3 separate regions of the Homo sapiens genome follow, and regions 1 and 2 are each linked to region 3. Evidence: fine-mapped expression QTL. A gene starts in region 3. Each other region holds a variant in brackets. All regions are shown on one strand. Distances are from middle to middle.

Region 1 (4,240 bases), 31 kb after region 3:
GTGTTCTCCGTGTACATGTGTTTGTTTCTAAGTTTCTCCTTTTCATGAAGGACAGCGGTCATATTGGATTAGGGCCCACCCTAATGACCTCATCCTAATCTGCTTGCTTCTGAATATATTCTGTCTCTAAATAAGGTCACATCCTGAGGCACTGGGGATTAGGACTTCAACACAGGAATTTGAGGGGACACAATTCAACCCATAACAGTCTGCTCACAGTTTTTTGTTATATAGCTTTATATTTAATTCCTGATTTGTTAAACAGGATATGAGTCATTGGCACCCAGTAACAACTTAACTTTCTCTGTAGTGTCTTAAGTAAAAATCAATAAGAAGAAATTGAGCTGGGCGTGGTGGTTCGTGCCTGTAATTCCAGTGACTTGAGAGGCCAAAGCAGGAGGATCACTTGAGGCCAGGAGTTCAAGACCAGCCTGGGCAACATAAGAAGACTCCGTCTTTAAAAAAATTTTTTTTTTAATTTGCTGGCCGGGCACGGTGGCTCACGCCTGTAATCCCAGCACTTTGGAAGGCCGAGGCGGGTGGATCACCTGAGGTCAGGAGTTCGAGACCAGCCTGACCAACGTGAAGAAACCCCATCTCTACTAAAAATATAAAAATTAGCCAGACCTGGTGAGGCATGCCTGTAATCCCAGCTACTCGGGAGGCTGAGGCAGGAGAATCGCTTGAACCCGGGAACCAGAGGTTGCAGTGAGCTGAGATTGTACCACTGCACTCACTCCAGCTGGTGTGACAAAGTAAGACTCCTTCTCCAAAAAAAAAAAATTTAAATTTGATTTTAGTTTACAGATTGTTTCATTCTTTCAACAAGCCTTTATTGGGTACTGTGCAGGCACTCAGTAACTAAAATCTTTCAGATGTAGTCTCCTCGGAGAGCAAAAGTTGGTAACTTACAGTTCCCATTTTTACCATGTATCCTGAAAAATGGAAAGCTAACTTTAACATCCAAGTATAACAATTCTCCTTAAACTAGGTTTCTAGTATACTGTACTCTGCTTCTTACAGTTATAATGCATGGCTGTTGACCTTTTATACTTATTTTAATAATCTTATTTTATTATAAACCATCTCAAATCCATTTTGGAAATAGGCAAGACATAAATGAAAAAGAGTCAACACTCTTCTCCTAACAACCTTCAATAGCTGATTTTAGCTAATGCTCCAACTTTCAGTGGGAGGAATATTAAGCAGAATTCTATCTCAGTTTCACAAAACTACCTGCTCTGTACTTGTTGACCGAATGAACTACAAAATACTTTGAGTTTCACACTAGAGGAGACTATCTATATAATATTAAATTGAAGAACTATACTAACAATTACATTTTGCTGAATTTACTGTTATTCCATTGCTTTTAAAAGACTAATTATCTTCTTAAATTACCTTTTCCAATTCCCTCATTTTCTGTACCTCATTGTGTGGTATCAAAATAGTCACAGTTTTAAGACTCAAAGCTCTCGATTTGATACCTCATTGTATGGTATCAAAATAGTCACAGGTTTAAGACTCAAAGCTCTTGATTTTTCTTCAGTTCTTCCTTATTTTTCTACTGTATCCAATTAGGCTTCTAATCCTACTAATTCTTCCTTGACAATATCCTCTTTGTTGTCACTGCTGCTTCCTTCTTCTGTCCCATGGGTCTAGATTACTGAAATAATATCCCAGTAGATTTTCTGTTTCTCCCAGTTTATCCAACTTCCACAATGAAGACCAAGATAAATGTTTTTTTTTTTTGGAACAGAGTCTCGCTCTGTCGCCCAGGCTGGAGTGCAGTGGCGCAATCTCGGCTCACTGCAACCTCTGCCTTCTGGGTTCACGCCATTCTCCTGCCTCAGCCTCCCGTGTAGCTGGGACTACAGGCACCTGCCACCACGCCCAGCTAATTTTAGTAGAGACGGGGTTTCACCGTGTTAGCCAGGATGGTCTCGATCTCCTGACCTCGTGATCCAACCACCTCGGCCTCCCAAAGTGCTGGGATTACAGGCACAAGCCACTGTGCCTGGCCAAATTTTTTTTTTTTAAAAAACATCATTTTCCTCCCTCTCCCTCTCCCCCTCCCCCTCCCCCCTCCCCCCCTCCCCCCTCCCCCTCCCTCTCCCCACGGTCTCCCTCTCCCTCTCTTTCCACAGTCTCCCTCTGATGCCGAGCGGAAGCTGGACTGTACTGCTGCCATCTCGGCTCACTGCAACCTCCCTGCCTGATTCTCCTGCCTCAGCCTGCCGAGTGCCTGCGATTGCAGGCGCGCGCAGCCACACCTGACTGGTTTTCGTATTTTTTTGGTGGAGACGGGGTTTCGCTGTGTTGGCCGGGCTGGTCTCCAGCTCCTAACCGCAAGTGATCTGCCAGCCTCGGCCTCCCGAGGTGCCGGGATTGCAGACGGAGTCTGGTTCACTCAGTGCTCAATGGTGCCCAGGCTGGAGTGCAGTGGCGTGATCTCGGCTCGCTACAACCTCCACCTCCCAGCCGCCTGCCTTGGCCTCCCAAAGTGCCGAGATTGCAGCCTCTGCCC[G/A]GCCGCCACCCCGTCTGGGAAGTGAGGAGCATCTCTGCCTGGCCGCCCATCGTCTGGGAGGTGAGGAGCCCCTCTGCCTGGCTGCCCAGTCTGGAAAGTGAGGAGCGTCTCTGCCCGGCCGCCATCCCATCTAGGAAGTGAGGAGCGCCTCTTCCCGGCCGCCATCCCATCTAGGAAGTGAGGAGCGTCTCTGCCCCGCTGCCCCGTCTGGGATGTGAGGAGCGCCTCTGCCCGGCCGCGACCCCGTCTGGGAGGTGAGGAGCATCTCTGCCCGGCCGCCCCGTCTGAGAAGTGAGGAGACCCTCCGCCTGGCAACCGCCCCGTCTGAGAAGTGAGGAGCCCCTCCGCCCAGCAGCCGCCCCGTCTGAGAAGTGAGGAGCCCCTCCGCCCGGCAGCCACACCGTCTGGGAAGTGAGGAGCGTCTCTGCCCGGCAGCCACCCCGTCCGGGAGGGAGGTGGGGGTCAGCCCCCGCCAGGCCAGCCGCCCCATCCGGGAGGTGAGGGGTGCCTCTGCCCAGCCGCCCCTACTGGGAAGTGAGGAGCCCCTCTGCCCGGCCATCCGCCCCATCCAGGAGGGAGGTGGGGGGGTCAGTCCCCCGCCCGGCCAGCCGCCCCGTCCGGGAGGGAGGTGGGGGGGTCAGCCCCCCGCCCGGCCAGCCGCCTCGTCCGGGAGGTGAGGGGCGCCTCTGCCCGGCCGCCCCTACTGGGAAGTGAGGAGCCCCTCTGCCCGGCCAGCCGCCCCGTCTGGGAGGTGTACCCAACAGCTCATTGAGAACGGGCCATGATGACAATGGCGGTTTTGTGGAATAGAAAGGGGGGAAAGGTGGGGAAAAGATTGAGAAATCGGATGGTTGCCGTGTCTGTGTAGAAAGAAGTAGACATGGGAGACTTTTCATTTTGTTCTGTACTAAGAATTCTTCTGCCTTGGGATCCTGTAGATCTGTGACCTTACCCCCAACCCTGTGCTCTCTGAAACATGTGCTGTGTCCACTCAGGGTTAAATGGATTAAGGGCGGTGCAAGATGTGCTTTGTTAAACAGATGCTTGAAGGCAGCGTGCTCGTTAAGAGTCATCACCACTCCCTATTCTCAAGTACCCAGGGACACAAACACTGCGGAAGGCCGCAGGGTCCTCTGCCTAGGAAAACCAGAGACCTTTGTTCACTTGTTTATCTGCTGACCTTCCCTCCACTATTGTCCTGAGACCCTGCCAAATCCCCCTCTGCGAGAAACACGCAAGAATGATCAATAAAAAAAAAAACAAAAAACAAAAACAAAACAAAAAAAACATCATTTTCACTTTCTTCCCCCCATACAAAATGTCACAATGGCTTCCCATTACCTATTGAATAATAATAAAAATAGCTAATATGTGTTAAGCACTGAACTGTTTGCCAGGCAGTGTGATGAGAACTGTACAGCCACCTCATCATCCTCATTCTTATCGTCATCTTCATATGGATGAAGAAACTGACGCTCAGGTGACGTCACCTGCCTAAGTTTGCACAGGTAGTAGGTTATAGAGCTGGGATTTGACTCAGTTCTGTTTGTCTCCAAAGCCGGGGTCCTGACAATGACGTGATTCTGCCCAAATTCTTTAAATTCAAACTGTTTGATTATTTAAGAACCTGTAAAACTGGCCCTGTCTTACCTCTCCTGTTTTCTCTCTCATTACTTTGTAGCACAAACTCAGTTTCAGCCAAGGTAGTCTCAC
Region 2 (4,240 bases), 23 kb after region 3:
TAAATAAATATTTTAGGTAATTCAACATTGACTTAATGTTGAGATGTAATTAATCACAAACATTAAAGCAAGCTTGACTTCTATATTTTAAATTTCAGTTGTTGCCACCTCCTCCCTTTCATGGTTCCATCAGCCGCCTTCATCAAATCAAACAGGTAAGAAGACTTTCCAAACTGACAGCTGTTCATTTAAAAAAGTAAATTTTATTTTTCTTTGTGAAAATACCTATGTTTCAGTAATTCTAAGTGAGGTCACGTGTAATATTAAGTTTTTATTTCTAGGAATGATTTCTTCAAAAAAAAAACAAAACTAAGAAGCACTTTTTTTGGCTTATTAGCTATTTTAATTAATTAATAATTTCTAGAAATACTGCATACTCTTATACCTTGAGTCTAGCTTCTTTCTTCCAGGGATCTGAAAGTGGAATGCTACACATAAAAATTAATTTTCAGCTTCATAATAACTGTAGTTATTATTTTTTTAACCCTCAGATGAGTTTTTTTGACAGATAAAATGGCCTTCATGCTATTGTTTTGTTCTTAGTGATCTGAGTTCAGGGACACATTGTACCTCACTGGTTTATATTTTGTGCCCATGTGCACGCATGCACGTCTCTGTGTTTGTGTGTTTGTGTTTGTGTATGTGGTTGGGAGGGTGTATGTGGGTGGGTGGGTGTGCACTCATGTGCACATGCATGCTTAATAGCACAAGCATAATACAGAATTCAACCTTTTAATTATCCAAGGATTAGCCACAGAACTCAAAAGATCAAATCACCACTACCCCACAGGTGGTATTTTTTTCTTTGACCCAGCTACAAGCAGACATTTTTTCCCCCAAGAGAGGCTTAACTTATTATTCACTTAGTACTAACAGGTACTTTACATTTGTGGTCTCATTTTATCTTACAACAACTTTATAAGGTCAGAAACTAAAAAGGGGAGAAATTTAGCAATTTACCCAATCTCCAGAGTTGGTGAATGTCAGAGCCAAGATTTGGCCCCAGATTACTGGATTATTTTCCAGCTCCCCTTTCCCTGTTTCAGTGCACAAAGCCCATAATACCATCTTGTAATCCTAGTTATTAGTCCTCCAACTCTTGCTTCTTTTCCCTCTCTCCCTTTCACCCCTGTGGCATGGCTTCCCTAAGGTCAGCTTATCCACTAGCAAGAAAGTATGGTAAAAATGGTTTTTTTCCTTTTTTTTTTTTTTTTTTTTTTTTTGAGACAGAGTTTCGCTCTGTTGCCCAGACTGGAGTGCAGTGGCTCCATCTTGGTTCACTGCAACCTCCACCTCCCAGGTTCAAGCGATTCTCCTGCCTAAGCCTCCCAAGTAGCTGGGATTACAGACGCCTGCCACCACGCCCGGCTAATTTTTGTATTTTTAGTAGAGACGGGGTTTCATCATGTTGTCCAGGCTGGTCTTGAACTCCTGACCTCAGGTGATCTGCCTACCTCGGCCTCCCAAATTGCAGGGATTACAGGCGTGAGCCACCGTGCCAGGCTGTTTTTTTTACTTTTTAGTGGGTAAAACTTGCTTTTACTCCTGTCTTTGTATGTAGCTATTTTAGAAATTCTTAAGGAATGAAACAAGTTCAAAGGAGTAAAGTGACCTCGTGTTTATCTGTGCAATATGTTTCTTTGCTTCTCCTAAATTAAACCAAATATTTGAAAATGGGTTATGTGTTGCTATTTGCTGGTGAAGCTTGATATAAATCCTAATTTACACTGGTTAGGAATATAAGTTTAATGCAGTTTATTTCCATAGTAACATAATATGTATTATAAATATTTAAAAATGAAATATAAGTAGAAAATGAATGAGATGGGAAAAGAGAAAAACATTAATTTTCAATCTGGATACTGATTGAATGGAAAATTAAGACTTATTTTCAGCAGTTTAATGGTCTGATAGATATCTTAAGTTGCATATTTCTTTTTTTTTTTTCTTTGTTTTTGAGATGGAGTCTCACTCTGTCACCCAGGCGGGAGTGCAGTGGTGCTGTCTCAGCTCACTACAACCTCCACCTCCTGGGTTCAAGGGATTCTCCTGCCTCAGCCTCCCAAGTAGCTGAGATCACAGGTGCGTGCCACCACACCCGGCTAATTTTTTTGTATTTTTAGTAGAGATAGGGTTTCACCATGTTGGTCAGGCTGGTTTCGAACTCCTGACCTCAAGTGATCTGCTCACCTCAGCCTCCCAAAGTGCTGGGATTACAGGGGTGAGCCACTGTGCCTGGCATAAGTTGCATATTTCTTTACATGCATTCTTTGACTGACTTCTTTGTCCCTATTAAACTTAACCTTTTAAGTGCAAAACAGAAATGTCTGGTTCTCTCCCCATTACCTTCTGAACTTTCACTTTAACAACATTAATAAGGGCATTGATTTTTCAAAATGGGGGGAATAATATTGGCTATCTCATAGAATCGTTTTGAGGATGAAAAGAATTACAACTGACCCTTCAACAACCTGGGTTTTTAAAAAGTAATTAATTTAATTTTTACAGGTGCCATGGGGTACA[T/C]GAGATACTTTGATATAGGTATGCAACATGTAATAATCACATCAGGGTAAATGGAGTATCCATCCCTTCAAGCATTTATCCTTTGTGTTACAAACAATTCAATTATCCTTTTAGTTATTTTTAAATGTATAATTAAATTATTATTGACTATAGTCACCCTGTTGTGCTAGCAAATACTGAGTCTTATTTGTTCTTTCTAACTATATTTTTGTACCCATTAACCATCCCACTTCCTCGCCACCCCTCATTTACCCTTCCCAGCCTCTGGTAACCATCCTTCTAATCTCTATCTCCATGAGTTCAAGTGTTTTAATTTTTACCTCCCACAAATAAGCAAGAACATGAGGCTGGGCGCAGTGGCTCACGCCTGTATTCCCGGCACTTTGGGAGGCTGAGGTGGGCAGATCACTTGAGGTCAGGAGTTCGAGACCAGTCTGGCCAACATGGTGAAACCCCGTCTCTACCAAAAATACAAAAATTAGCCGTGCGTGGTGGGTGCCTGTAATCTCAGCTACTCAGGAGGCTGAGGCTAAAGAATCACTTGAACCTGGGAGGCGGAGGTTGCAGTGAGCCGAGATCGCGCCACTGCACTCCAGCCTGGGTGACAGAGAGAGACTCCGTCTCAAAAAAAAGAAAAAAGAAGATAAGTTAGAACATGCGATGTTTGTCTTTCTGTGCCTGGCTTATTTCACTTAACATAATGACCTCCAGTTTCATCCATGTTGCTACAAACGACTGGATCCCTTTTTTTTTTTTTTTTTTTTTTTTTTTGAGACAGTCTTGCTCTATCACCCAGGCTGGAGTACAGTGGCGCCATCTCAGCTCACTGCAACCTCTGCCTCCCAGGTTCAAGTGATTTTCCTGCCTCAGCCTGCTGAGTAGCTAGGTTTATAGGCCCACGCCACCACGACAGGCTAATTTTTGTATTTTTTGTAGAGACAGGGTTTCGCCATGTTGCCCAGGCTGGTCTCGAACTCCTGACCTCAGGTGATCCTGCCTGCCTCAGCCTCCCAAAATTCTGGGATTACAGGCGTGAGCCACCGTGCCCAGCCTGGATCTCATTCTTTTTATGGCTGAATAGTACTCCACTGTTTATATGTATCACATTTTCTTTATCCATTCATCTGTTGATGAACACTTAGGCTGCTTCCAAATCTTAGGTATTGTAAACAGTGCTGCAATAAACATGGGAATGTAGATATCTCTTCTATATGCTGATTTCCTTTTTGGTGGGTGATATACCTTGGAGTGAGATTGCTGGATCATATGGTAACTCTATTTTTCATTTTTTGAGGAACCTCCAAACTTGAACAACATGGATTTGAATGGCGTGTGATGTGAAACCCTCCTATACGTATGGGTGACTTTTTGTATCCTCGGGTTCCAGAAGGCCCACTGTGGACTTGAGGATGTGTGGATTTTGGTATTGCAGTGGGGGGGTGCTGGAACCAATTCCCCACATATACCAAGGGATGACTGTAAGTAATTATGCATAATGCCAAGAGTACTGCATTAAAAAAAATCTTTTTAAATGGAAAATTTAAAACATGGAATATAGAATCTTCATGTACCTAACACCCAGCTTTAACAATTATCCACATTTTGTACATCCTTTTTCATCGATCTGCTTCTCTTTTAGGGGTGGGAGAGAGTGCTTTAAATTTCTGACATATCTTTTTACCCAAGTTTATGGGTATGAGAAGGACTTTTTTTCTCC
Region 3 (4,240 bases):
CCCAGCACTTTGGGAGGCCGAGGCGGGTGGATCACCTGAGGTCGGGAGTTCGAGACCAGCCTGACCAACATGGAGAAACCCCATCTCTACTAAAAATACAAAATTAGCTGGGAGTGGTGGCACATGCCTGTAATCCCAGCTACTCTGGAGGCTGAGTCAGGAGAATCGCTTGAACCAGGGAGGTGGAGGTTGTGGTGAGCCAAGATTGCGCCATTGCACTCCAGCCTGGGCAACAAGAGCGAAACTCCGTCTCAAAAAAAAAAAAATGTTATCCGTAAAGTGCTATACCAGTGTTATGACTATTTTAATTAATAACTCCCATTTCACTAGGTTTATTTGCCTTGTCTGCCAGTTCTCTATATGGTTACTAAAATGTGTGGTTTTACAAAATTATTAGCATGGAGTTAAGATTTCAGTACTCAGTGTGGCTCATTAAGTGATGGTGAAAATTTCTAAAAGAGTAGTTCTTAAAACGATATGAGCCATGGCAGCATTCTTAGAATGTATGTAGCTTCTAATACTACCTGAAATGAAAACACTGATTTGCATTGATACTAAATTCTGAGATATTTGTTTTTAAAAAAGCCTCACTGCTTTAACTCAAATCTTTGTAAATTAGCTGAGGTCTTTATTTTTTATATGAATAGCTGTGAGGAGCCAGATTATATATAATGTAAAAATACACACTGAGGCAGGCGCGGTGGCTCACGCCTGTAATCCCAGCACTTTGGGAGGACGAGGCGGGCGGATCACCTGAGGTCCAGGAGTTCGAGACCAGCCTGGCCAACATGGTGAAACCCCGTCTCTACTAAAATACAAAAATTAACCAGGCGTGGTGGCGAGCACCTGTAATCCCAGCTACTCGGGAGGCTGAGGCAGGAGAATCGCTTGAACCTGGGAGGTGGAGGTTGCAGTGAGCCGAGATCGCGGCCACTGCACTCCAGCCTGAGCAACAAGAGCGAAATTCCATCTCAAAAAAAAAAAAACAAAAAACTGTACGATTATGGTTTAAAAAAGAAAGAAAGAAACCACACTGAAAACAGTAATTCGTTTGCCAAATGAGCTCAGTTAGGTTAGCACCTTAGCAAGACCCTTTGGGACCAAGTGGCCTCTAAGCACTTAGGTAGCAGTATCTTTTTTTTTTTTTTTTTTTCAGACTTTTGCTTTTCTAAAATTACAAAGGTGTAGTGTGTCTGCTGTTACAGGATGGAAAAATGCATCATAGGAGGTTAGAAGCTTGTTGGCCTCAGTCATAAAGGGATAAGAAAAATGAGAATTAGGCATAGGGCAGGAAGGACCTCACTCCTCCCAACGCTTTCATTTCTAAATAATGCTTAAGGAAACCATGCCAGGGTTAGTAAAAGAGTAGAGGCACAACCACGGTAAGTGGGCATTGGGGAAAGAGGAAGGAGGGCAGGACATGGGGATAAAGCGGTTTCTTAACTGCGCGTGCGCCCCTGGCAAAGCTGACTAAGGCGCCTGAAGTGACGTCATTGCCTGCATCACAACAGGCGTCGTCCGGCTGATAGCTTATCGCAGGCTCTGAGGGGCGGGACCCAACTGATTGTCAAAGGCGGCAGATTGTAGTTTTTGTTTTGGCCGGAAAGGCTTACCATGAGTTGCCAGGGCTGAGAGAGATGGAGAAGGATTCGCGGCGGTGACAGATTAAATTCCCCAGTTACATTATAGACTTGGAGGTGGGGGATCTTCTCATCGTTAGAGGCCCCGATCATGGGAGATAGGCGGTTCGGAGCCAGTTCTGCCTAACTTTGTGTTCACTGATGTTAGGGCTGCTAGGGCTGCAAAGGTGGGCACCCCTACTCGCCTAAGAGCTTTCTCCTCTCTTCTCTTTTTCCCCTTTGCCTCTCTCCTTACATCACCTGCCCACTAAGTAGACTTGTCCTTGTGTGGACGGGAGCCGGAAAGCCTTGAGAACTTATTCCTCGACCCGGACATGGCACAGGAGAAAATGAAACTAGGTTTCAAGTCGCTGCCGAGTTCCACTACCGCAGACGGCAACATTCTGAGAAGAGTCAACAGTGCCCCTTTGATCAATGGACTTGGGTGAGCCGGGTTGAGATACTGGAGGAGGCAAGCGGTGGGGAGGAGGTGTTCGGGAAAGTGATTTCCTATAGAATTCCCGTCCCTTTATTTGTTGAGGTTCTGCAGGTAACTCCCTTGTTCCTGGTGTCCGGAGATCCCACCCTCAACCTTGGGTGGGGGTAGTGGGACGGGCTGACCTGAGGGGGAGCGCGCACCCACCCTGAGGTTGACAAACATCTGAATCTGAACATCCTCCCCTGATAGTCCACTCGGACCCGAAAGTAGCAGCCAGTTGGTGTGGAGCACGGCTTTTTTCTAACTTCAACCCATTTCTTACCCACTCCTTTGAAGAAACTTAGTATCCTCCCCCACTCACCTCCAGATCTTCTGCCATGACTGTAATATTTGTCATTTCAGCTGCTTTGTCACCTCTGACCTTCACCTCCAGCCGCTTGAATGGAAATGGTTGTCAAGCAAATAAGCTTTGGACTTTTTTACATTTTTTTTTTTGTCTTTTTTTGAGACGGAGTCTTGCTCTGTCGCCCAGGCTGGAGTGCATTGGCACGATCTCAGCTTACTGTAACCTCCGCCTCCTGGCTTCAAGCAATTCTCATGCCTCAGCCTCCCTAGTAGCTAGGATTACAGGCGCCCACCACCACACCTGGTAATTTTTTGTATTTTTATTTTTTATTTATTTGTTTATTTATTTTTGAGACGGAGTCTCACTCTGTCGCCCAGGCTGGAGTGCAGTGGCGTGATCTCGGCTCACTGCAAGCTCCACCTCCCGGGTTCACGCCATTCTCCTGACTCAGCCTCCCAAGTAGCTGGGACTACAGGCGCCCACCAACACTCCCGGCTAATTTTTTGTATTTTTAGTAGAGACAGGGTTTCACCGTGTTAGTCAGGATGGTCTTGATCTCCTGACCTCGTGATCCGCCCGCCTCGGCCTCCCAAAGTGCTGGGATTACAGGCGTAAGCCACCGTGCCCGGCCTAATTTTTTGTATTTTTAGTAGAGACAGGGTTTCACCATGTTGGCCAGGCTGGTCTCGAACTCCTGGCCTCAGGGGATCCGCCTGCCTCAGCCTCCCAAAGTGCTGGTATTACAGACGTGAGCCACTGCTCCTGGCCTACACCTATTTTTTATTGGAGCAGAAAGTTTTGGTACCACAGAAGCTTGATCTCCTAAATTACACATTCTCACTGGGTGATACTTCCCCCAAGGGGAAGAGAAAATAGTTCTTGGGGGAGTGTGAAAAATTTTTACTCTTTTTATGTATAAAGCGCAGATATACATACAGTATGTACACAGATATATACTATATATGTGTTATTAAAATTTCACGAAGGGGGAGCAATTAGGGGAAAAATGTCTAAAAAGGCTTTTTAGAGGGTCAATAATGAAAAAAGGATTTAGAAACACTACACTAAATGATGGTTAACTGTATTTCTGAAGATCTGGGATTACTAAATCTTGTTTCCTTTTTTTTTTTTTTTTAAGACGGAGTCTCACTGTGTCGCCCAGGCTGGAGTGCAGTGGCATGATCTCGGCTCACTGCAACCTCTGCCTCCCGGGTTCAAGCGATTCTCCTGCCTCAGACTCCCGAGTAGCTGGGACTTCAGGCACCCGCCACCACGCCCACCTAATTTTTTGTATTTTTAGTAGAGACGGGGTTTCACCGTGTTAGCCAGGATGGTCTTGATCTCCTGACCTTGTGATCCGCCCACCTTGGCCTCCCAAAGTGTTGGGATTACAGGCGTGAGCCACTGCGCCTGGCCTAAATCTTACTTCTTAAACTAGACTTTTAAAATGAGATGTTGGATTTCACATTTCAGTATTATAAGGTTTTCTAGATACCGTAAAAATGTCTGAAAAATGCATTCACTACATATGTTACTAACTTTGCTCTTCACCTTTTGTTGCATCATACTAATTGATAGTTGTAATTCACAGTACCATAGACTATCAGGAAGGGATTCAGAGACCAGCTTTACCCTCCTTGTTTAACATATGAGGAAACTGAGGCCCATAAATCTCCAAAATGACGTTTAGTGGCAGAGCCAGTACTAGGAAGCTCTGTTTCCTGACTCCTAAACTACTGTTCTGGCCACTACTAACCAATACCTAAGCTGATTAACTCTAAATGAATGCAGCTTTTGGGTCATTTGAGGTAGGAGAGAATATATTGTTCACAAAAT

Alleles and levels. Alleles are on the strand shown, and positions count from the first base shown. SD is a standard deviation of normalised expression in the study named.
In carriers of allele A in region 1, the expression in tibial nerve of the gene that starts at base 1,593 in region 3 tends to be higher than with G alone (moderate effect, 0.42 SD a copy in GTEx).
As copies of T replace C in region 2, the expression in atrial appendage of the gene that starts at base 1,593 in region 3 goes down (small effect, 0.27 SD a copy in GTEx).

The links. PIP is the estimated chance that this variant, and not a neighbour inherited with it, causes the effect.
Region 1: its variant is the best candidate, but not a certain one, in a credible set for the expression of PABIR3 in tibial nerve (GTEx, PIP 0.75).
Region 2: its variant is the best candidate, but not a certain one, in a credible set for the expression of PABIR3 in atrial appendage (GTEx, PIP 0.66).

The regions. Positions count from the first base shown.
Region 1 is chrX:134,836,580-134,840,819 of GRCh38, forward strand. The region is part of intron 4 of PABIR3 (PABIR family member 3); the gene reads left to right. Among named protein-coding and RNA genes, the nearest start is that of PABIR3, 31 kb to the left of the region's middle. The variant G/A (reference allele first, on the strand shown) is at 2,528.
Region 2 is chrX:134,829,128-134,833,367 of GRCh38, forward strand. It overlaps PABIR3 (PABIR family member 3), which reads left to right. Exons shown (of 11, transcript NM_001388447.1): 4 at 99-155. Among named protein-coding and RNA genes, the nearest start is that of PABIR3, 24 kb to the left of the region's middle. RefSeq lists a silencer at 2,943-3,157. The variant T/C (reference allele first, on the strand shown) is at 2,524.
Region 3 is chrX:134,805,645-134,809,884 of GRCh38, forward strand. It overlaps PABIR3 (PABIR family member 3), which reads left to right and starts at 1,593. Exons shown (of 11, transcript NM_001388447.1): 1 at 1,593-1,697; 2 at 1,896-2,064. The coding sequence starts at 1,955. RefSeq lists enhancers at 1,950-2,109, 2,495-3,451.